7 linked regions of the Homo sapiens genome follow. The protein of the gene in region 5 interacts with the protein of the main gene of each other region in a biochemical or structural test. Each region holds a gene or a part of one and is shown on either strand. Other genes may lie near its edges. The genes, in order: GRM5, XKR7, SLC15A2, GOLT1A, DLG3, SMCHD1 and CLDN3.

Evidence for each region.
Region 1: the proteins of DLG3 (region 5) and GRM5 interact in a test that uses a peptide from one of them, tested with the Homo sapiens proteins (one large-scale study listed by IntAct).
Region 2: the proteins of DLG3 (region 5) and XKR7 interact in a test that uses a peptide from one of them, tested with the Homo sapiens proteins (one large-scale study listed by IntAct).
Region 3: the proteins of DLG3 (region 5) and SLC15A2 interact in a test that uses a peptide from one of them, tested with the Homo sapiens proteins (one large-scale study listed by IntAct).
Region 4: the proteins of DLG3 (region 5) and GOLT1A interact in a test that uses a peptide from one of them, tested with the Homo sapiens proteins (one large-scale study listed by IntAct).
Region 6: the proteins of DLG3 (region 5) and SMCHD1 interact in a test that uses a peptide from one of them, tested with the Homo sapiens proteins (one large-scale study listed by IntAct).
Region 7: the proteins of DLG3 (region 5) and CLDN3 interact in a test that uses a peptide from one of them, tested with the Homo sapiens proteins (one large-scale study listed by IntAct).

The regions. Positions count from the first base shown.
Region 1 is NC_000011.10:88,504,142-88,507,062, forward strand, and holds the end of GRM5 (metabotropic glutamate receptor 5 isoform a precursor), read right to left. Parts: 3' UTR 501-2,921; downstream 1-500. UniProt on the Homo sapiens protein: G-protein coupled receptor for glutamate. Ligand binding causes a conformation change that triggers signaling via guanine nucleotide-binding proteins (G proteins) and modulates the activity of down-stream effectors.
Region 2 is NC_000020.11:31,971,151-31,974,650, reverse strand, and holds part of XKR7 (XK-related protein 7), read right to left. Parts: intron 1-3,500.
Region 3 is NC_000003.12:121,939,401-121,942,044, reverse strand, and holds part of SLC15A2 (solute carrier family 15 member 2), read right to left. Parts: coding exon 2,550-2,644; intron 1,662-2,549; coding exon 1,557-1,661; intron 1,215-1,556; coding exon 1,038-1,214; 3' UTR 1-1,037. UniProt on the Homo sapiens protein: Proton-coupled amino-acid transporter that transports oligopeptides of 2 to 4 amino acids with a preference for dipeptides. Transports neutral and anionic dipeptides with a proton to peptide stoichiometry of 2:1 or 3:1.
Region 4 is NC_000001.11:204,197,663-204,200,825, forward strand, and holds the end of GOLT1A (vesicle transport protein GOT1A), read right to left. Parts: intron 1,597-3,163; coding exon 1,533-1,596; intron 835-1,532; coding exon 796-834; 3' UTR 677-795; coding exon of another isoform or gene 644-676; 3' UTR 501-643; downstream 1-500. UniProt on the Homo sapiens protein: May be involved in fusion of ER-derived transport vesicles with the Golgi complex.
Region 5 is NC_000023.11:70,496,835-70,500,334, reverse strand, and holds part of DLG3 (disks large homolog 3), read right to left. Parts: intron 3,156-3,500; coding exon of another isoform or gene 3,114-3,155; intron 1,816-3,113; coding exon 1,765-1,815; intron 1,160-1,764; coding exon 1,058-1,159; intron 459-1,057; coding exon 286-458; intron 1-285. UniProt on the Homo sapiens protein: Required for learning most likely through its role in synaptic plasticity following NMDA receptor signaling.
Region 6 is NC_000018.10:2,802,122-2,805,517, reverse strand, and holds the end of SMCHD1 (structural maintenance of chromosomes flexible hinge domain-containing protein 1), read right to left. Parts: intron 2,991-3,396; coding exon 2,966-2,990; coding exon of another isoform or gene 2,883-2,965; 3' UTR 501-2,882; downstream 1-500. UniProt on the Homo sapiens protein: Non-canonical member of the structural maintenance of chromosomes (SMC) protein family that plays a key role in epigenetic silencing by regulating chromatin architecture.
Region 7 is NC_000007.14:73,768,497-73,771,541, reverse strand, and holds CLDN3 (claudin-3), read left to right. Parts: upstream 1-1,271; 5' UTR 1,272-1,492; coding exon 1,493-2,155; 3' UTR 2,156-2,545; downstream 2,546-3,045. UniProt on the Homo sapiens protein: Barrier-forming claudin. Plays a major role in tight junction-specific obliteration of the intercellular space, through calcium-independent cell-adhesion activity.

The sequences.
Region 1 (2,921 bases), on a different chromosome or scaffold from region 5:
GAGACACATGCAGATGGACTCAAAAGTCAAATGTCTATATAAATATGTATGTTTGTAAACACACATCTATACACACACAAATAATCTATTTTATCTGTGTGATGTTACCTCTATCAACACATATAATTATGAAACTATTTCTATAATTTGTATGTCTAGATGCATAAACAATGCATATTTCCTATATATTTTTTTAAGTACTTCTTTATGTAACAGTTGTTTGTAGATGTGTTTGGGGACAACATCTCTGGTTGGTTTGTGGTTGGTTTATATTTTCATTTAAATCTATACAGTCCACTGCTTACTTTGTAAACCCCATAATTCAAATGTATAGATCATCCAGTATTCAAGATTAATTAGTATCATGGCTCTTTTCATCTCAGAAAACACTATTAAGACAACATTCTAAACATTTGAGGGGAATAATCTTAAAATCATATTATAGGTTTTTTAATTTTTTTGAAAAGTAACTGGCTTCACAAACACCAAGTACAACATGATTTAGACAACTGAGAAACAGGCAAGTATATTTTGAAGTGCTAAAATAAAACATATTTATACAAGTACAAAGCAAAACAATGCTGATAAAAATGTTAAACTTTATGAAAAAAAATCATTTGCAGTTCACATCAAAATAATTTAACATTCTCTATTATTTTAATAGTACAAGCTGCCACAACAGAGAAAGAACAGATACACGCACACAATTTTAAAACCAAATCAGTTATAAGTGCAGAAAAAAGTAAGTACAAGCACTTTTAGCCCACACAAATCTTTTAGGATTGGCACCATCTTTCTAAAACATCTATAATCTATATAGATTTCTAATTACAACACCATCAGCAGCTGCCATTGATTTCTAGAAATACACACAATATACATAGTATATTTGTTCACATTGGGAAGATCAGTGAAATTCAACCAACTATTTTATACATGCCTCATTCTTCAATAGACAGTAGAGACTCTCCCAGGCCTCAGACCCTCTTCAAAGTGAATTCTGACTTGTCTTTATGCTTTCACTGATCTGTATTTTTTCACAGTATAAAATTGTAAATGGTAACTATAGAGATTCTGACAGCTTGAGGGTTATTAATAAGCTGTTGCTAAATGTGAACTCACATAATACCTTTGAAGTCTCCAAAACATGTACATTTTACTGGGAGACTAGCATAGGAAATGCTTTTGTTTTTTGTTATTCTTAAAAAGAGCATTTAATTCCTGGCTTGGAAGTCACAGAACTGCAGCAGAGCTATTATACAATTCATTTACAGTCAGAAATAGCTCCTAGTCTTCCTGATCACTTGCTGGTAACAGCAGTAGTTTGGGAAAGATAGTTACTTTCAAGGATTAGCACGTTTGGGGATTTGCTTTTTTTCCTTGCTTCAGTCAAATCTCTTATAATTTTTCTTTCCATACTCCCTTTCTGTTCCCCATCCCTAGCCCAGAAAGACGGTTCTTCCCAATCCAGATATGTTCTTCTTAGGCTGCCCCCACTCCTTTCCCAAAATGGAAGGATGAGTGGACTGCTTAGATTAGTCAGTATAACTTGGTTAAACCACGTCTTCTTCTTTCCATCCTGGGACATATCTCTCATTTAGGGTCACTTTGCTGAGCCTTAGCATATCCCCTTCCTTTTAGTCATGCTGGTCCCGACTGAATTATCACTGGGCACCAGGAACAGATTGTTTTGAAGGAAATTCAATGAGAATGTACCCAAATGAATTGTGAAGTTCATATCCTATAGCCCTAGAATGAATATTCAGTTCTCTTTGTACTGTAGAGTTATTACTTGGAACCTGGTATTAGAATTGGCAAAGAGACAGAGTTAGCATCATTCCAAAATAAAAGATCTCAAGAATGCATTACTAATAATCTTATGTCCAACATACAATGTATTCAATGGAGTGGCAAAAGTTATAGAAATACAGAGAAAAATATATCTTGTCCTTTTCTAATTGGATAAATCATTTTTATTATTACAGTTGATTATGATAGCATGTGGAAGTATCAGATGGCAATTTACTTGCATTAAATTTAATTTCTGATGAAGTTTTTTATAAGGTAGTGTGCTTTTTAAGAGATATGTTACTAAAAAAATAGAAAATGAATTTGACCATGAACAAAGTTTAAACATGTTCTTCAACTGGTCTAGAGTGAAACGTATTGTACTTGAGAATAAAATGAAAATCAACATAAGGATTTTATAAAACAAATTTTAAAATGTAGAGCATATCAAGAAAGGTTTTTAATACCTAAGAAGTCAAGATAGGAATCCTCAGGTGAATGCCATCCTTTTGATGAGGATCCAAAGGGTATTAACACCTCAAAAGATTTCCATTTGTTTTTCAGATAGAGGCAGACATTTGCTTTTAATGAAACCATGAAACTTAGCTAGATTTCACTTACATTTTAAAAGCCTCGGTGTAATATTTGGGATCAGGGTGCTGTGATGATGTTATTTTCAAATCTAGCATGGGAGGTTCGATTTCTTTTAAATTAATACTTTAGTACATTAATGTTAGCTTTTAATGTTTTGTATTGGGAGGTTTGACTTAAAGTTGCAAGTAAGAACAAATAGCAGAAAAGAAAACTCAAGCAGAATATTTATTAGAATTTTTTAAAGTGAAGAATGATAAATTATGCCAATGGACTGACTTCTATTTCTCAGTTTATTTTCTGTTAAGTAGATGTGAAATAAAAAAAAATACTTACCAAAGTAAGGATATTGAGCTAAAAGAAAAAGTTTTATTTATTATTCTCTCTGCCAAAATATACTTCTGCCTCACAGCACATATTTTTCATAAGGCTATCTTAAGTATAAGGCTGGGTCAACTGAACTTTAAATTTATAGGACACCTCCTCCATTTATTACTATCCTTATTTAAAAATCAAAACATTTGGTACCTGAGGATAGCTGC
Region 2 (3,500 bases), on a different chromosome or scaffold from region 5:
CCTGTTTTACAAATAACAATGTCTAATTATCATTGTTGAGAACTTCCTATGTTCCAGGCACTGTGCTGAACACTAAACATTATTTAATTTTCTACTACCTCAAGCACCATGCGATAGGTGCTATTATTAGAGTGTCCATTTAGCAGATGAGAAAATCAAGGCACAGACAAGTCATGCCACTTGCCCCAAATCACAGAAAGTGGCAGGTGCAGGATATGGCTGATTCCAGAGAGTGGATGCTGAACCATTAACTCTGGCCCCAGTGGAGAGACTGAGGACCAAAGAAGGAAAGAGGTCGCATTAGCTCAGCCTGAAGCAGACCCCCATCCCTGTTGCTACAGTTTGATCCAGTCTCCATTGTCTCTCTCCTGCATCTTTGTAGCAGCCTCCTCATGCATCTCCAGGCTTACTCTGCCTCCCTCCAGTCTATTCTCTCTCTTTTTTATGCTTTTTCTCTTGAGATGGAGTCTTGCTCTGTCACCCAGGCTGGAGTGCAGTGGCTCACTCTCGGCTCACTGCAACCTCCACCTGCCAGGTTCAAGCGATTCTCCTGCCTCCGCCTCCCGAGTAGCTGGGATTACAGGTGCGCACCACCATGCCCAGCTAATTTTTGTATTTTTAGTAGAGACCGGCTTTCACCATGTTGGCCAGGATGGTCTCGATCTCTTGACCTCGTGATCCGCCTGCCTCGGCCTCCCAAAGTGCTGGGATTACAAGCGTGAGCCACTGTGCCCGGCCCCTCCAGTCTATTCCCCACCCAGCAGCCAGAGTGGACATTGCAAAACACAAGTCAAGATCATGTTCCTTCTCTGGCCAAATTATCCTGGGCTCCCCGTGTCATGAAGAGTAAAAGCCCTAGTCCTTGCCATGGCCTCTGAGGCCCTGCATGACCTCGCCCCTGCCAATCTGTCCACCAGCATCTCCAAACATGCTCCCCTCACTCTATTTCTGCCACACAGGCCTTCTCCTTGCCCTTCCCTTTTCCTTTGCCTGCAAAACCCTCCCCAAGACCTCTACACAGCTTGTCCTCACCTCGTGCAGCCCTTTGCCCACATGCCACCTCCTTGGAGAGGTCCACCCTGACCACCCTATCTCAAAGAGCCACACCTCTCCCTGGCACTCCAGTAGCTCCCTGCCCTGTTTCATTTTTTTCCCCATAGCACTTATCACGATCTGGCCCAGGTATTATATATCCCATATAATATATATCATAGTTTATTTTCTTATTGGTTCCTTCATTAGGCTATTGAGCTCCAAGAGGGCAAGGACTTTGTCTTGTTCACCACTCTATTCCCAGCACTTAGAACAGTGCCTGGTATACAGCAGGTGCTTAATAAATGTCTGCTGAATGAATGACTGCAGATTAAATGAATGACTGCCATGTCATTATGGCTTCAAGGGACTTCAGGACCCCCTTGCTGTCCTGCCATGTGCTCCGTGAACAAAGCTTTGTTCCACAGGGAGCAAAGCCCAAGCTAATGCACTAATCATTGCCAGCAGTTTCTGAGCATTTAACGATGGAATGAGCCCTTTGCTGAACCCTTACACATTATCTCATTAAACCTTGAAACAACCTAAGAGGCGGGTGGGTACAATTTTGGTCCCTAGTTTACAACGGATGAGAGATTATTTGCCTTGTCAAGGTCACATATAAGAAGTAGTAAAGTCTGGATTTAAACTGAGGACACTTGAATCTAGAGTCCGTGCTCTCAACCCTCTCAACCGTTATGCCAAGAATGTAGTTTCCCAGAGGGGAAATCCAGAGCCTGACATTTCCTTCCAATAGGTCACTAACTCATTCCAGAACTTCTCTGTCATGCAGGGCTTCTTAGGTGACATAGAGTGCAGTGTCTGGGCCTATGCATAGAGAGGGCATTAGAGGGAGGGCCCCTAAATCCCAATTGCCTAATTTTCTCCCCATTTTGGGGTTCCCAGATCCCGAAAGCCTGGCAGGAATCCCATGTCAGATCGTCTCCCACTAATTGGCTTAGCAAACCATGCTTATCTGGGTGAAGCTGGGGCCCACTGAGCTCAAGATTAGGAAAAGCAGGATTCATGGCTTACTGCTCTGCTGCCTACAGGGTCAGAGGGGACAGGGTTAGGACTTTAATTAGCTTAAGAACCCTGGGCAGTTTAACAGCTCAGAGAGTTTAAAGGGAAGGGAGGGATGAAGTTGCAGGTTGGTGTCCAGGCCACAGCCAGCTTCGTGCCCCGCCAGAGGATCTGTTTGCTGTTCCCTCAGAGTTCAATCTCTCTGTGCACAAAGATATTGTTCTGGCATGTCCCAAAGTAGCCAGTGTGTGGTGTAAAAGATAGAGCTAGGTTTGGGACTGATCACCTTTCCTCACTTCCTCAGTGGGTGACTTTTGGACAAGGTTCCTTATCTGATAAATGGGTATATCAATAGTCACCAGGGGGGAGGGTTTCAGAGTAACATGAGATCACATGCCTGAAACACTCACACAGGGCCTGTGGGGACACGGTAGGTGTGCAGTGTCTGTGTATGCTTTCTCCTCCTCTCTCTCTTCAGAGCTTCATTTTATGTTTAAATTAGTAATAAAATCTTCTGTGTGAAAAGACCTTATCAATTTGAAGAGCTAAACCAGAGGTTACAAAGAAGACAGGCTAATAAATATGTTTCCTTTGGTTGACACTATTTTTAAACATTTTAATTAGTAGTTAAATTTTGGAGAGTTCACGGAAAAATCCCAATTTCCCATTTCTCTTGAGAAATCAAGACTGGGTCCACGATTTCTCATGGCATGATCAGCTGGAGCTTCCCTTTTCCTCGGACACTACTTGCCCCTGAATGTCCTCTTGTCTGACACCCCTTGTATCTTATGGTCTTATGGTCTGTTACCTGCCTGGGTCCTCAAAGCATTTGAATTTTTAATTCAGGATTTTACAAGTCTAAGAGGTTGAAAAATATCTTCATGATTATAATTATTTTATTCAGAATTGAGGAAATGGGATCAGGAGGTGAGTGACTGCCTAGCCTCCCAGGTGTGATTCTGGAGGACTCAATCACACATCTCCCTCTTCATTACCCCAGGCCCCACCACTCAGAACATCTGTGGGAACATCTCACGTGGTAAGCAAATGTGCTGGGCCAACATTGCTTAATTTCTAGGAATGCCAGCCCCTGCAGCTTCTCTATACCTTCTCTGGGTTTTCCCTCCATTTATCCAGGCCCTTAGCCATTTTAGAATCCAAAGATTTTGGGGGCAAGGGCCCAGAGGCTTTTGCTTTGGCAATAGACCCAGAGTCAGAATTTCAGGAATGGGAAACTCTTAAGGTCATCACATTGAATCTCATTTCACACACAGGGAAACCGAGACCCAAAGATGGAAAGAGCCTTGCCCAAGGTCACCCAGCAAACTATAGTTACAAACTAGGATAAAGATGTCAGCCTCCTGACCAGACCACCCCCGAATCCAGCCTTTTCCCCACAATACACACTGTTCCCGTCCTCACCCACATAGTTCAACTCCCTGCCCCTC
Region 3 (2,644 bases), on a different chromosome or scaffold from region 5:
AAAGTAAATCAGGAAAACAACATCAAAAAGGAACTACTTTGATATTTTTGAGGCTAAATGGAAACATTAATAAAGGAAGTTGGACTTATAGAAACATTGTTGTTATTGAATATTTGCTGCAATAAGCAAGACAAGGTGTAATAATAAGAAAAAGCTGGATCAGCAAGGTTGACAAGACAAGGTTGCAAATTATAATTATTGTTTATACAACTGTTCACTGAAGGGCATAGACCAGCGCCATAGAGGCTAAGAAGAATGTACTCTGTAAAAGAATGACTGGCTCTTCAGGATTTCTACAACTTACACCTGTTCCTGTTCTCCAGAACAATGTTTACTAATGCTTACTATCTCTAATCTGGTTTCCATGATCTATCCATACTGAGAAAGGAGGGTTTGGATAAGTAAATAAAATACTATCATAATCAGAGAGATATAACTTCTCCTGTGTTTTAATAAAATGGCATTCTGCTTCCTACCATCTATATTGACAAATTTACTAAAGTCATATCAAACCTAGAGAGCTGACAAGCCAGGCCCTGGCTGGACCAGATCACATCATACATACCAATTCTTGAGGCCCCTGTGAATAGCATAATTACATTGCTTATAAAAAAAAAAACTTGAAATACCATTTCTTTGTTATTCTGCAATTTTGCCTCTAAATCAGCACCTCAAAAATTAGGGCCATCAGTCCTAAATGGCAGTTACCTATAAAGGAATTCCCATAACTTTGCATACCCACAGAGAATGATCTCCATTATACGTGTGTATTTTCATGGTCATTTGGAGACACCAGGCCAGCTCCAGCAACACTGCACAAGTTTTAATGAGTTCACTGATGGACGGGCAGACATAGAGTCTCTGGGGCCTTGTTTAAAGATGTACTGGAAAACCAGTCCTGGAACTTCTGTCATTGGAGAAAGGTGGAGGAGATCAGCTCTGATATGCTGCTATCTCTCTTGTCTAATCCAGTAGAAGAAAAAAAATGCTTCAAGACAGGGCCAGGAATTGGGGTCAGGACAGAATCTAGGGAGTCATCAGAGTTTTGTCTTCTTGGTCTCTAGTTTGATCATGTTCCCCTGGATGTGAGGAATGTGCTTATCTGCTGGACCCCGCATATCCTCTGTCTTTACAGGAACATAGTAGTAGCCCATGATGGAGAAGATCAGGCAGATCACCAGCAGGAGGCAGGAAAACAAAATGAATTCGGCCCACTGCAGGGGGAAATAAATATGAGAAGAATATGGAGAAACCTGAAACTAAAGAGATCTTTACAGGATGAGGAGTGGGGAGCAGACTGACCTGGGATCACCAGTTTAACCAGACTTTTGCTGGACAAAGACTGGGTTCACTGGCCTCTCCTCACATAGGTATATTGTAGTCATTATTGCCACTTACATATGTCTATTTTCCTGGTAAAGTCTGTATATCTAACCCATTTCATGTCACAGCACTGAATGGGGAATGTGGGAAGCAGAGAGATGGGGGAAAGGGAGAAGAGAAAGCTGGAGGAAAAACTTGAGTAGAAATGAATCCTGCTTCCCTCAGATCCATACCTGTACCAGGCCACTGAACTGTGCCACAACAAGCACGATGATATTCCCAACTGCAATTGTCAATAGCCAAGCTGCCTGGAGCACAGATTTCATGCTAGAGGGAGCCTGGGGATGACACAAGTTTGAAAGTAAACAAACCCCCTTCACTGCCCTCATGCCCCATGCATCCAGGAAACTTCTCCCACAAAAGCTTCCAAGTTAGAACTTCTCTTATTAAGTTCAGCTATCACATTGATTCAGAGGGTGTTAATAATGTAAACAGTAAGAATAAGATGAAGCTCCTAACTGAATATATTTAAACTCATTATGTCATATAATCTTCATTACAATCCTAAGAGATAAGTTCTATTCGTATTCTTATACATTTAAAAAATAGTATTACAGACTGGGCGCAGTAGCTCAAGCCTGTAATCCTAGCACTTTGGGAGGCCAAGGTGGGCAGATCATCCAAGGTCAGGAGTTAGAGATCAGCCTGGCCAACATGGTGAAACCCTGTCTCTACTAAAAATACAAAAATTAGCCAGGAATGGTGGTGTGCGCCTATAATCCCAGCTACTCAAGAGGCTGAGGCAGGAGAATCGCTTGAGCCGGGGAGGCAGATGGAGTCTCGCTCTGTCGCTCAGGCTGGAATGCAGTGAGCTGAGATCGCGCCACTGCACTCCAGCCTGGGCGACAGCATTACAGAGATAGTAATTTACTTGCTCAAGGTTACACAATAGGTCATGCAGCCAAAATTTGAACACGGGAAGTCTGACTCTGCAGCTCTTCATTTTAATCTTTAATCTCTTTCCTAGAACCCCAAAATCATAGACTCCCATGCTGTACTGTCATGACCTGGGGAGTTAAGATGTTCAGGTCATATATGTTCAGGGTCATAAATAAGGTACCCAAGGCCAAAAGAGATAACATACCTATTTAAGTCAGTGCTAGAATTAAAATTCATTGTCCTTCAAGCAATGCCTCAATTTCTACCTTCTATTTGCAAAAACTTACCTGAGAATAAGAAAACTCAAGACCTGTGACAGAGAACATGACCTCCCCAGCTGTAACCAGGGCATATTGTGGTAGCTGCCACGCAATGGACATTT
Region 4 (3,163 bases), on a different chromosome or scaffold from region 5:
TTAACAGGGGATTGCAAACATATTATTATCACACCCATTAGGGCTGTTAAACACCAGGACAGAAATGATAGCCTATGAGGACAGCACTGACCCTCATAGACCAAAACTTCGCTGTGGGGATGATGTGTACGTTGGCCTGTCCTGAAGCAGGAGGTGGTCTTAATGGGCTGAAGACGCTAACTTTTTTTTTTTTGAGACGGAGTCTGGCTTTGTCACCCAGGCTGGAATCCAGTGGTGCGATCTCAGCTCACTGCAACCTCCGCCTCCTGGGTTCAAGCGATCCTCCTGCCTCAGCCTTTTGAGTAGCTGGAACTACAGGCACCTGCCACCACGCCCCGCTAATTTTTGTATTTTTAGTAGAGACGGGGTTTCACCATGTTGGCCAGGCTGGTCTCGAAGTTCTGACCTCAGGTGATCTGCCCACCTCAGCCTCCCAAAGTGCTGGGATTATAGGTGTGAGCCACCGCGCCCGGCCAAAGACGCCAACTCTGAGCCTTAGACACACGCACAACTTGGGAATTTAATCTTCACTTTTCCTCCCATAAATATAGAGTGAGGGTGTGATACCAGCCCCAGCCCAGTCTCCTTGGGGTCTGCATCTCTGCTTCCTGGCAGCCTCTTGAGTCGACTTGGGGATTTGACGTCAGTTGCTCAGCTCCATTCCTTCCTTCTGGACTTGGGGAGGTCCGGATATGTCGGGGAGTGAGTCAGTGCAGGGGACTGAGGGGGTGGTTCCCATTCTCCCTCTAGCCCCCTCAACCAATGATCCAAGTTCAAGGAGCTCATCTCTGTTTTTCAGACCATCGAGCTAGTGCCTTGAAGTCTCCGGAACAGCTGTGGGAGCCAAGAATCATTACTCCACACAAAGGGTAGAGAGCAGATGCAATATCTAGTTATTACAGAGCTGGCCTTGAGAGCCAGGAGCTGTGCCAGGCGCAGATACGAGAGGGGCTGTAGGGGCTGTGTCCAGCTGGCGGTTGTGGTGGGGTGCTGGCTGTAGGGTCTCCCTGGGCTCCTCAGAGAGCTCACATTCTGCCAGGTGCTTCAGAGAAAGGGATAAGGAGGGGCAGGGGCTGGATACCAGTGGCTGTGCCTATCCCCAGGAGAGGACAAAATCTGCCACCTGCAGGACAGCTTTTCCTGCTGTCATCAGCTGTCATACATTCTCTCCATGCCTGGGGCCCGCACTTAGCCAGATCCCCAGAAATCTCAGGCATGTCCTGGCTGAGTCACCTAGAGTCTCTGCGTCTTCATTTCTTTGGCTGTAAACAGGAAGCTATTCATAGCTACCTGCCTCTACAGCCACACTCAGCTACAACTGCGTCTGGATCCCCTCTCCTCATGGGCTCTTGTCAAATGGAGAAGGTGCGGGGGGAAGAGGAGCCTAAAGCACCAAACCTGGGCTAGGGGGTCTGAGGGGAGACAGGGGAGAGGCCACTGCCCCTGGGGCAGCAGTTTTACCAGCTCCCCTCCGTGTGCTCCCCCTCACTCCCCAGGGTACGCCCGCAGGGCTGCAGGCATCATCTGCTTACCGCACCCAGGAAGGGGATGTTGCAGACATTGCCCAGGAAGCCGAAGGCGACAGGGAAAAAGCCCCTAGGAGCAGAGGGGAGAAGGGAGGAGTCAGTGATGGCCCAGGAAGAGAGGATAGAGGGCACGAGGCTGAGGTCCACTGAAAGGTTCAAGCTCTGGCTTCCACACACCAGGGACAGGCTTGATTCTGCACTCCTGTGTTCCGAGAGACAGTCGAGTGACATGATTAAGAATGAAGGCCCCAGGGTCACACTCCTTGGGTTCACTTCTTGGCTCTACCACTTACTGGCACCATATACACTTGGGCAAATTCCTTAACTTCTCTGAATCTCAATTTCCAGCCATAAAATGTGGCTAACAATAACAGTATCTACATCATAAGGCCACGTACAAAGAAATGCTCAGGAAGTGCTTATTTTTATTATTGTTACTCTCATGATTATGACTCTTCTGGCCTAAAGCTTTCTTCTCTTCCTGAGATCCACCTGCCCCGGGTGTCCTGGGCCCTGGGCGTCGGGGGCTGTTGGAAGCCATGCTCACCGTTACACTCCCTGGTGCCCTGGCTCCCCCAGGCACACAGCCACCCCTGCCTTTGGCAACCCTGCTCTCATCAAAGATACCCTGCCAAGGCCTGACTGCAGACACATGCGTGACCCCTCACAGGGCTTGGAGGTGCCAAGGCTGGCATGGGAAGGGATCCCGGTGTGTGGCGGATGGGAAGGGAGATTTGAAATATGGATTCTGGCTGAGCCACTTCCTTACCGTGGGCCTCAATTTTCCAAGGTTTCACTGCACTCTGAGGTCCCTGATAGCTGTAATTTGTTTGCCTCCTGTGTTACTGCACAGTGTCTTTGTCAAGGCTGACTTTCAGTTTGAACTATTGAATTTGCTGCTGTCCCACTCCACTTTCTAAGCCCTCCATAAATGCTAACTGTTGTCAGAATTTATTTATGGGTCTTCCCTACTAAATTGTAAATTCCTTAGGAACTTTCTCCTCATTCAGTGCCACATCCTCACACCTGGCCCTGTATTTGGCATGCAGTAGGTGCTTATTATATATTTGACAATTTGAATAAGCGACTGTTTGAAAATGACATATATGTGTATATATATATATATATATATGTTTTTGTTTTTTTTTTTTTGAGAGAGAGAGTCTCGGTCTGTCACCCAGGCTGGAGGCAGTGGTGTGATCTTGTCTCACTGCAACCTTCGCCCCCTGCGTTTAAGCAATTCTTGTGTCTCAGCCTCCCGAGTAGCTGGGATTACAGGCACTTGCCACCAAGCCTGGCTAATTTTTTTTTGTATTTTTAGTAGAAACAGGGTTTCACTATGTTGGCTAGTCTGTTCTCGAACTCCTGACCTCAAGTGATCCGCCTGCCTCGGCCTCCCAAAGTGCTGGGATTATAGGTGTGAGCCACTGCACCCAGCCATAAAATGACATATTTGAATATGGAATAAATAGATGGCAGGTATGCATGAGAAACTTTAAAGCCACACTTCCCAAAGTCTCTGAGGCCTAGGCCATTCAGGCTAATCAGGGGGTTTCAGGGCTGCCTTCAGCAAACGGGGGCTCCTGTGAGAACCTGGGGATTCCTGAGCCCCACACCTTTCCATGATTGCAGAAGCC
Region 5 (3,500 bases):
CCTAAGAAATTCGATCTCTGAAGTAGACAGGCCCTACTTTTTGCTCCTATTACCCAGAAAAGGCCACATCTGTCCAGGGCCCCCTATTCCCTGTTGGGTAATGCTCTGGGGTGAGTTGTATGAAGGAGACAGATAGCTTCGTCAAGGCGCTGGGAGTATGCAGATGTGCTATGGCTTTGGTCAGCAGCACTGTTGGGCAGCTCCTGTGTTGGAAGGATAAGGATCCAAGTGGAACCTTGGCATAAGCATTGGCCTCCCCTTTGAGGCCATCTCCTGTACACTTACCCTCTCTGCAACTGCCCGCACTGACTGGATGCTGGTCCCATAGAGGTTATCATTAAATTGGCCCGCCTCGATGAACTTGTTGTCCTGAATATCTTTCTCCATTTGTTCTCGGGACACCACAAAGTGGTAGTCTTGTCCATCCACCTCATTATCACGTCGAGGCCGGGTAGTATCTGAAGGAAGAAAGGAAATGCTTTGTGGCCCAGGGGCAGTGATCCGCCCCAAACCAAAAAATACTGACTGGTCCATTCTCATCTGGGTGGGTCACTGGGCCACTCCATTTTTTTTTTCAAGTAAGTGGGAGAAAACAAGCAGTTGGGAAGCGGTTTGTCTGGCCTACTTCTCTTCCAATCTCCAGGTCTCACACAGGGGGCTATTTGCTTTAGCTTAAACTGGACTAGAAAGGTGGGGTTTCCTGAGCTAAAGCATGGCAGAGGGTGCCAAACTTGGTAGAGGAGACAGTGAACCTAACAAACTGTTAATGGAGTCACATCAACACCACTTTGGCTGGGCCTCCGTATTTGTCCAATCATTCTCAACCATCACCACTGAAACTTCCCCTCAAGAGTGAGCAGCCAAGCCTGATGGCTTAATCTCTCCAACCCCATCAGCTTTTGGGGAATATATTGCCACCTACTGTTTTCCAGCGTGTCAAATGTACCCTGTCCCCAAATAGCCCTAGAATCTGATCCCAGACCTTTTCCATAAAACATTAGAGCAACAATTCCCAGGGCACCAAGCCTCACTCCTCTGGGCCTTCCTGGACTCTTACGTGGCACACAGGATCCAAATTTATGTGGAAATTCGGAGATCAGGTCATCATTGACTCGGTCCTTCATTGGGCCCAGGATGATCACAGGCCTTGCATAGTGAACTAGAGAGGGAGAGCATCGAGACAGTGAACAGAGGCCCCCACCAGACAGCCTGTCCTACCCCTGAGTCTGGCTAGAACACAGAGGCTCTGGAGCAGAGACTCAGACAGGGTAAAGCATCCTCAGACATTGTCTGGCTTTTAAACAGAAAGACATCAAAGAGCCTTTAATTTGAGAATATCTAAGTTCAAGGCAAGTCTGAAACCGGAAGCTGCTCCCCTTCTAACAGAGTCAGAAAAAATCTCTGCACTGACACCAGTAACTGAGCAAGGTTTTTGCAGAGCAGCCACTGAAGGGAAGAACCTGGACCTCTCTTTTAGCAGTGGCTACATCTACTGAAATAGACTTTCCTTGTAAATTTGCCCCCTCCTTTGGAAGGTGTCCTGGCAGCAGGCAAAGGCACAGAGAGAAGTGCACACTGGATGCACCCCCTTCCCTATGACACTAGGAAGAAGCATAGAGAAGAAGGAGCCCAGGGGCTGGATGTGCCATGAGTCAAGCCTTCCTCCTCCTCCAGGTCCCTCCCTCTGCTGCCACAGCCACCCACTGTATTGAGCCCCACGACCAGGAGACCAGCACGAAGACAAGGCTCTCAGAGGAGGCTTACTTTCTTGCCGTGTCACTGGCTCATATGACAAAATAGCATCCTCTTGTCCTTCTGCAACAAAAAAGAGAGATAGGTTAGCACCATATGATCTGCCTCCTTCTGTACAGTACTCCCCGTACCCCTCCCCTGCCAGGACACAGCCTTATCAGGTGGTCCTTGCCACCACCTGTGATCCTTTCTGTTTTCTGCTGGTGAGAAAGCACATGAAACCCTTCACTGGCTCTGAGACAGGAGTCAGCAGTTCTCTTGTTCAGTGAAATATCACTGGGCAAAGGGCCAAGGCCCAGAAGCCATGAAGCCTCCACCCCAAACCACCCCAATTTGTGAGGAACTCTTCTTGTAGGTAACAAGTCAGCTGTGTGCAGTAGCCCCCTTGCTCTGGTAAGAATGACAGGGACACTTTGACTGGTTGAGATGCTTGCCCGAGTCCCCTTCATCAACATGCAGGGGAGTCAGGGCACACACCCAGGTCCCCAAGCAGCCTAACTTTGCCCTTTTAAAGGTCTACCAACCCACCTCCTGCATTGGAAGCAGCATCCAGAAAAGTGGCACATGGCTCTGCTAAGGTCCCCAGTGCCCTTTAAGAGCAATGCTGAACCTGCTGTCTCTTCCTGGTGGAGCCCCATGTCGAGCCTAGCAATGTTGAGGTTTTCCTAAAACAGTCGTCAAGCCACTCGGTGCTGGGTGCCTGGAGGTCCCAAAGTGGCTGATGGCAGTCCCAGGGAAAACAGTGATATTTGCATCAAGGCACACAATGCTTGCTAAAAGGCTTCTTCTGAGCCTAATATTCCTGGGCAGATTTTACAAGGCTTCTAGCCACCATAGCTCCTGAAAAACCAGTGCTCCCAAAGTTCATGAGGTTTGAATTACGGTTTCTCTGGTCTGGTCACAGGATCTCCCAAGGAGAACTTGGCAATTACCTCATCCTTTAACTGGCCCCAAAGGCAAAGAGGTCCTAATGACCTGGAAAGGCAGATTTAGGGCAGTGTCCTAGAGGAGCCATTTTTCTTTTGGTCTCTGAGCAAATCTATAAACCTGGCAGCACCTATGGCCCACAGTACCCATGGCAGGGATTTACTCTTTGGCAGTTTACCCTTCCCAGTGCCAGGGATGCTTTTAAGTCAGGTCCCGGCCAGCACTATAGGGCTTATACTCTCCTTTAATCCATGGGGTGAACCCCAACCCATAAGGAGAATGAACTGGCCACAGCATTTCTAGGATCTCAAAGTGTACATGGCTAAAAGAAGCACCAGCCTCTGAGCAGCAATGGCAGCTGTGCAACACTGGAATGAGGATGGCTGGGATACACAGTGGAGCTACACGACATGGAAGGAATGACACACACTTACTGGAACTGCTTTCGCTGTCACTGGTGTTGGATGTCACTCCCTCTGCAAGCCAACAAGAAAGAGACTCCAATTCAGAACACACCACTGAGAGGTCACATGCAGCACAAAACTCAAATGCTCCAGGAGCGAGACACTGAGCTGCCAACTGAGTCAGGCCACCAGAGGCCTGCCACATCCAGGCTACCAACTGGGAGGCACAGCTCCAATCCTGAGCCCCTGGCCCTCTCGTACTTGTCCCCAGAGCCCTCTTGGTCTGCCAAGTCCCTCCCTATGTACTACAAGCCATACTTCCTTCAGCAGCATCCTCTTCATCTGAATCAAATTGACCTGGATGGTTTCCAAATCGTATTTCAAAATGCATCTCCCAAGGCTAACAACAGGAAAGAA
Region 6 (3,396 bases), on a different chromosome or scaffold from region 5:
GAAGTGAGTAGTCAGTCTTGGTTCAAACTACCACAGATTCTCATCTTCCTTACTGAATTTTTGTAAATGTTCTTGAATAGATGTTTCTTCATTGCCATTTGTCCTCAGGACCATTTCCAGAAGTTTTAAATGGTTGTTTTTAATATTTTTCACCAGTTTCACAGTATGAAAATTAAACATTCAATTTTTTTACTAAAATGTATTATTTGAAAATTCTATACTAAAAATACAATGGAATTAACCCCATCAATTTCATAATGACTATAAAGTAATCAAGTCACAGAGCCAAAGTATAGACAGTTTAGAAGACTGAACTTTCCTTAGCACTAATATTTAACAATAGGAGCCAATTTCACTTAAAATAATCTGAATGTTATATATGCAACAAATTTTAGTCTCTGTAAAGAATCTTATACCAAAAACCCTATAAAAATGTTAAGTAAATTGAGCCTATTTTTACCATAGGCCTGGCCAAATGTACACATGAAAACTGATGAACGTAATGTGCAAAAAGGCTTGGAGAGAGTTTTATTTCAGTTACTTCAAAATACAAGTAGGCTATTATTTTCCTTTGGAAGAAGAAACCAGAAAAAAAACTTCCTGATTGTAACATTGTGACAAATTTCAGATTATATAACACATAACACAGGATAAATGGCTGTAGCATTAATTTTTTTCTCCAGTTACATTCCTTTATACTAAAAGACTAGTATTAAATCTTAGAAGAAAATTTCAATTGTTCTTACGTGTTACATATTAAACACAAAAGCAATTTATTATTATTTGGTACAACATGAACCTCAGTATTTGCTCAAATGTAGAAAAGGATTCCTTAATATGCTGAGAAATATCCTTAGATAAATCCAACTGTGAAAATATAGAAAAACTCCTTACTGTAATTACTGGGAACCACAAAGTTAATTTTTACAGGGTAGAAAAACTCCACAAAAATGGAGATTCATACTTAAAAACCTTCTTTTACTGATAGAACATTCTTTCTGGTATTATAAAATGAACAAAAGTGTACAGATATGGGCTTGGGGCTAGATAATATCCATAGAACTCGCCATTTTAAGCAATAAAAATTGGCATGTGGGTGCATGCCTGTAATCCCTGCTACTTAGGAGGCCAAGGCAGGAAGACTGCTTGAACCCAGGAGTTCAAGACTAGCCTGGGCAATGTAGTGAGGCCACTGTCGCTCAAGGGAAAAAAAGACATGTTTTTAAACACACTTCTAATAAAAAGAATTTTTAAAACCAACTTTTTTGCTTCTAGATAGTCTCAATGCCTTGGATTTAAAACATGACTCCTTCTTGATACAATGAATTATAAAAGCAAACTAGTTCCACATATTAATTATACGTTCAAGTCTAGTTCCTAAAAAGTCATTTCTCTTTAACCTTTCTTACCTATCAATCAATCATTTTCATATAATCTAATGTCTAAGGACTCCAAATATTGGTACGGGGTGAGTATCCCTAATCTAAAAGTCAGAAACAAGAAATGTTCCAAAATTCAAAACATTTGAGCGCAGATATGACACATAAGGGAAATGCTCATTGAAGCATTTCCAATTTCTAATGAAAGATTTTTGGATTAGGGATGCTAAATTGGTAAATATAATGCAAATATTCCAAAATAATAATTTAAAAACCCCACAAAAAACCAAAATCCAAAACACTTCAGGTCCCAACCATTTTGAATAAGGGATACTCAACCTGTAGTACCATGGGAGCCAATCTTCCCCACAGCTAATTCTGTAATTACCATTTTGTTTCTTCTGTAACAACAAACAGTTTAAATAATTTCCAATTATAAAGATAGATAGGTTAACATCATCATCGTTTTTTAACAAGATAACTTTTATGAAGCTTCCAATTTTAAAAAAGAAAAACACTTATCTATTCAGTAGGGAAGAAACAATCTTATTTATTAATGGCCTGCATATTTAGAAAGGGTTTAAAAACACATACATTTCCTGGGACACAAACTTACTTACCAAATGTATGTCCTTACAAAATAACTTCACAGATCAATAGTCTTGAACTTACACAAAGACATATATATGACATACATTAGGTTAATATACATTTCAAATGTTTTTGCAGCAACTTTCTACCAGAAAGTACACTAATGTGAGAATGTATGTTCTCTTTAACCCCTTAAAAATAGTAATAAAAAATTACAAAATAATGTAAATGTAAAATTAAGGCTGAGACTACATATTCTAGTATTAATAAAGTCAAACAAACAATAGTTATAAAACTTGGTGCTGCTGAATATTTTATATATATATATTTATATATATATATATATATACACACACACACACACACAGGATAAGTCTTTTGAAATTTGAAATGCTACCACTGTCACAAGTTCACTCATTGATTTAATGTTGTTCTGGGTATCTTAACATTTCAATTCCCAAATACCTGTGCTTTTAAAATTTTTATCCTGAATTCTGCATTGAGTTTCCTCACATATTTACAATTAAACATCTAGCCTCTAGAACCTCCCTTACACAAAAGACAAAACATCTTTGTTAAATAAATTCACGCAAAAGTAATAAAAAGGTTTTCAAGAAATAGTTCTGACATGTTCATTATATTTATACTGAAAAATAGTACATGTACTTTTCTTCAGGATTAATAAATGCCATGTGCCAGTTTTACAGTCACTGCCACATTAGCACATTTTCCTCTTACACATTTGCAAGGTAGTGACAACCAAAGGGCATAATGTCTGGAATAATTCCAGTAAATCCATAATGTCCAGTAAGATTCATAAAATTGAATGGTTGTTTCCAGTCCCATCTGAATCGAAATGGAAATTCATGCCCAGGTACTTGTATTGTCCCCAGAAATACTCAGTCTGGTAAGTCACCCTCTTGGTCTTCTGAAACAGAGATGCAGAAAGCAGGGCATTCTTACTGAGACCAATGGCCTCTTCTCTCTGTCACCTCTCATACATCTGTTTTGGTTATAATCCTGGTCAAAGGGGAAAGAAAAAAAAGTTTTATGTACCAAAGGTTTCCTTTCCCTGAATTCCCTCATCACACCTGAATGCTTAAATATCCAATGAAACCATATTCTTTTAAATATAATTCTTGGTATAAACAGATTTAATTAAATCCTTATATATAATCATTTCCTTCACATGTATGCAAAACAAGCCCCCAAATAAAAGTAGTTAACACACACACAGTATATAACATATATAAGTAATTTGTATCACAGTGCTTTGAAATGGTATTATCTCAGACCTAAATTCTGCAGATTTTTCCTTTCACCCCCTTTTCCTTAAATGAACTTATTATTTTAAGAACAGGAATTATAATGCTTATTACAGAAAAGTAACAAAGACAAGCAAAATAAAACATTTAATATTCATAAT
Region 7 (3,045 bases), on a different chromosome or scaffold from region 5:
GTTAGGAACAGCCCAGGCTGAACCTCCAAGGCCAAATCTGAAGGGCTCTGAGCTTGGTGAAGAAGGGGGAACGATCGTCCAGGTGTGACAGCCAGGGCTTTGAGTGTAGCATTTCTGACTTCCCAACCTTTTTTTTTTTTTTTTTTTTTTTTTTTAAACAGGGTCTGCTCTGATGCCCAGGCTGGAGTGCAGTGGTGCGATCATAGCTCACTGCAGCCTCGAACTCCTGGGCTCAAGTAATTTCCTGCCTGAGCCTCCGGAGTAGTTGGGACTATAGGCACACGCCACCACACCTGGCTAGTTTTTTAATTTTTTGTAGAGACGGGGTCTCACTATTTTGCCCAGGCTGGTGTCGAACTCCTGGTCTCAAGCAATCCTCCCTTCTCAGCCTCCCAAAGTGCGAGGATTACAGGAGTCAGCCACCACGGTGCTCGGTCCTGCCCGATTTCCCACTTTTGCGGAGATCGAACCTCTTTCACCACCATTTCATTAAGGTGGGCCTCAGCCCTGACTCAGGCTCAAAGGGAGGGAGGACAGGGCTCGGAGAGGGGAGGGGACTCAATGGGAGGAGGGGGACTTCTGGGAGGGGAGAGCAGCTTAGCTAAAGGCATGCAGGCTCACGGCCAGCGATGGGAACTGGAGGGAGAGCTGGAGAGGAATTTGAGCTTAGTTAGGCTTAAGGGCATCTTTTGGGTACCTTTGCGCAGGCAGTCCCTGGCTTCTGGGCCCAGCAATTCCTGGGCTGGACAACCCCACCGCCCGGACTCAGGCTGAGCCTGTGCGACGTGTGTACGGGAGGGGCAGAGCAGCAGGTGCGCGGCTCCTGCAAACAGCCGCGGCCACGCCCACCCTGGTCCTCCCCGCCCCGCCGTTCCGGGGTAATTGGCAGCGCCCCCATCCCCACGCGGCACGTGCCAAAAGCGCCCAAAGTGGTGAGGAGAGAGAAGCCGTGTCAAATTCTTTGGGATTTGCACCCCAAGCCCCTGACGCATCCCGTCCTCGGTTTTGCCCCGGAGAATTCATTCCCGAGCAGAGAGGGACAAGGACCGAGGGGCGGGGGCTGGGTCAGGTCCCGCCCTTCCTTGGCAACCCCCCTACCCCGGCGTTGTGGGCCGCGCAGGGCCAAGTCCTTCCTCCCAGGACGCTCGGTGAAGGTGGGAGGCAGGGGCCACGTCACTGTCCTTAGGCCCTGGAGAGCGCGGCTCCGCCCCTACCGCCCCCACCGGAGCGCTGGGCACTTAGCTAAGACGCACCGGCCCCAGCCCAGGGCCAGCCCAGTCGCCGCCGCCCGCCCACAAAGCCACAGGCAGGTGCAGGCGCAGCCGCGGCGAGAGCGTATGGAGCCGAGCCGTTAGCGCGCGCCGTCGGTGAGTCAGTCCGTCCGTCCGTCCGTCCGTCGGGGCGCCGCAGCTCCCGCCAGGCCCAGCGGCCCCGGCCCCTCGTCTCCCCGCACCCGGAGCCACCCGGTGGAGCGGGCCTTGCCGCGGCAGCCATGTCCATGGGCCTGGAGATCACGGGCACCGCGCTGGCCGTGCTGGGCTGGCTGGGCACCATCGTGTGCTGCGCGTTGCCCATGTGGCGCGTGTCGGCCTTCATCGGCAGCAACATCATCACGTCGCAGAACATCTGGGAGGGCCTGTGGATGAACTGCGTGGTGCAGAGCACCGGCCAGATGCAGTGCAAGGTGTACGACTCGCTGCTGGCACTGCCACAGGACCTTCAGGCGGCCCGCGCCCTCATCGTGGTGGCCATCCTGCTGGCCGCCTTCGGGCTGCTAGTGGCGCTGGTGGGCGCCCAGTGCACCAACTGCGTGCAGGACGACACGGCCAAGGCCAAGATCACCATCGTGGCAGGCGTGCTGTTCCTTCTCGCCGCCCTGCTCACCCTCGTGCCGGTGTCCTGGTCGGCCAACACCATTATCCGGGACTTCTACAACCCCGTGGTGCCCGAGGCGCAGAAGCGCGAGATGGGCGCGGGCCTGTACGTGGGCTGGGCGGCCGCGGCGCTGCAGCTGCTGGGGGGCGCGCTGCTCTGCTGCTCGTGTCCCCCACGCGAGAAGAAGTACACGGCCACCAAGGTCGTCTACTCCGCGCCGCGCTCCACCGGCCCGGGAGCCAGCCTGGGCACAGGCTACGACCGCAAGGACTACGTCTAAGGGACAGACGCAGGGAGACCCCACCACCACCACCACCACCAACACCACCACCACCACCGCGAGCTGGAGCGCGCACCAGGCCATCCAGCGTGCAGCCTTGCCTCGGAGGCCAGCCCACCCCCAGAAGCCAGGAAGCCCCCGCGCTGGACTGGGGCAGCTTCCCCAGCAGCCACGGCTTTGCGGGCCGGGCAGTCGACTTCGGGGCCCAGGGACCAACCTGCATGGACTGTGAAACCTCACCCTTCTGGAGCACGGGGCCTGGGTGACCGCCAATACTTGACCACCCCGTCGAGCCCCATCGGGCCGCTGCCCCCATGCTCGCGCTGGGCAGGGACCGGCAGCCCTGGAAGGGGCACTTGATATTTTTCAATAAAAGCCTTTCGTTTTGCACTCGCTGGAGCCTCCTTGTTCCCAGCGCCTCCACCTCCCTGCAGAGCTCCCCCTCGGGGCGGCCTTGGCTGGATCTCGCTCTCCCGGATGGAGCTTAGAGGGAAGATGGGGTTGTAAGCTGAGCTTGGTGATGGCGGGGTGGTCACTTGCCCACTCCCTGGGGATTCGGAAGACAGCCTGTGAGGCCAAAGCCAGCGCCCAATCTAGGAAGCAGGCATGAGCACTTTCCGCACGCCATGGCTGGGGATGGGAGGGGAAGGTGGCAGAGATGTGCCCCTGGGTCTGTGCTGGGAGCCCGGACCCCGCACAATACCCGACACATTCGGAATCTCCCGTGCGCCTTGTGAAAGAGCGCATTCCGTACTGCCATTTCCTATTGGAAAAACGAAAACAAAAAGACCTATTGTTTGGATAAAACACGCCACCAAAAGTAAAACCGGGCCAAATCTTCTCACCTGGGGGAGAGATGAGAAAGGGTCCCCATCTCCTTCCTGGGACCC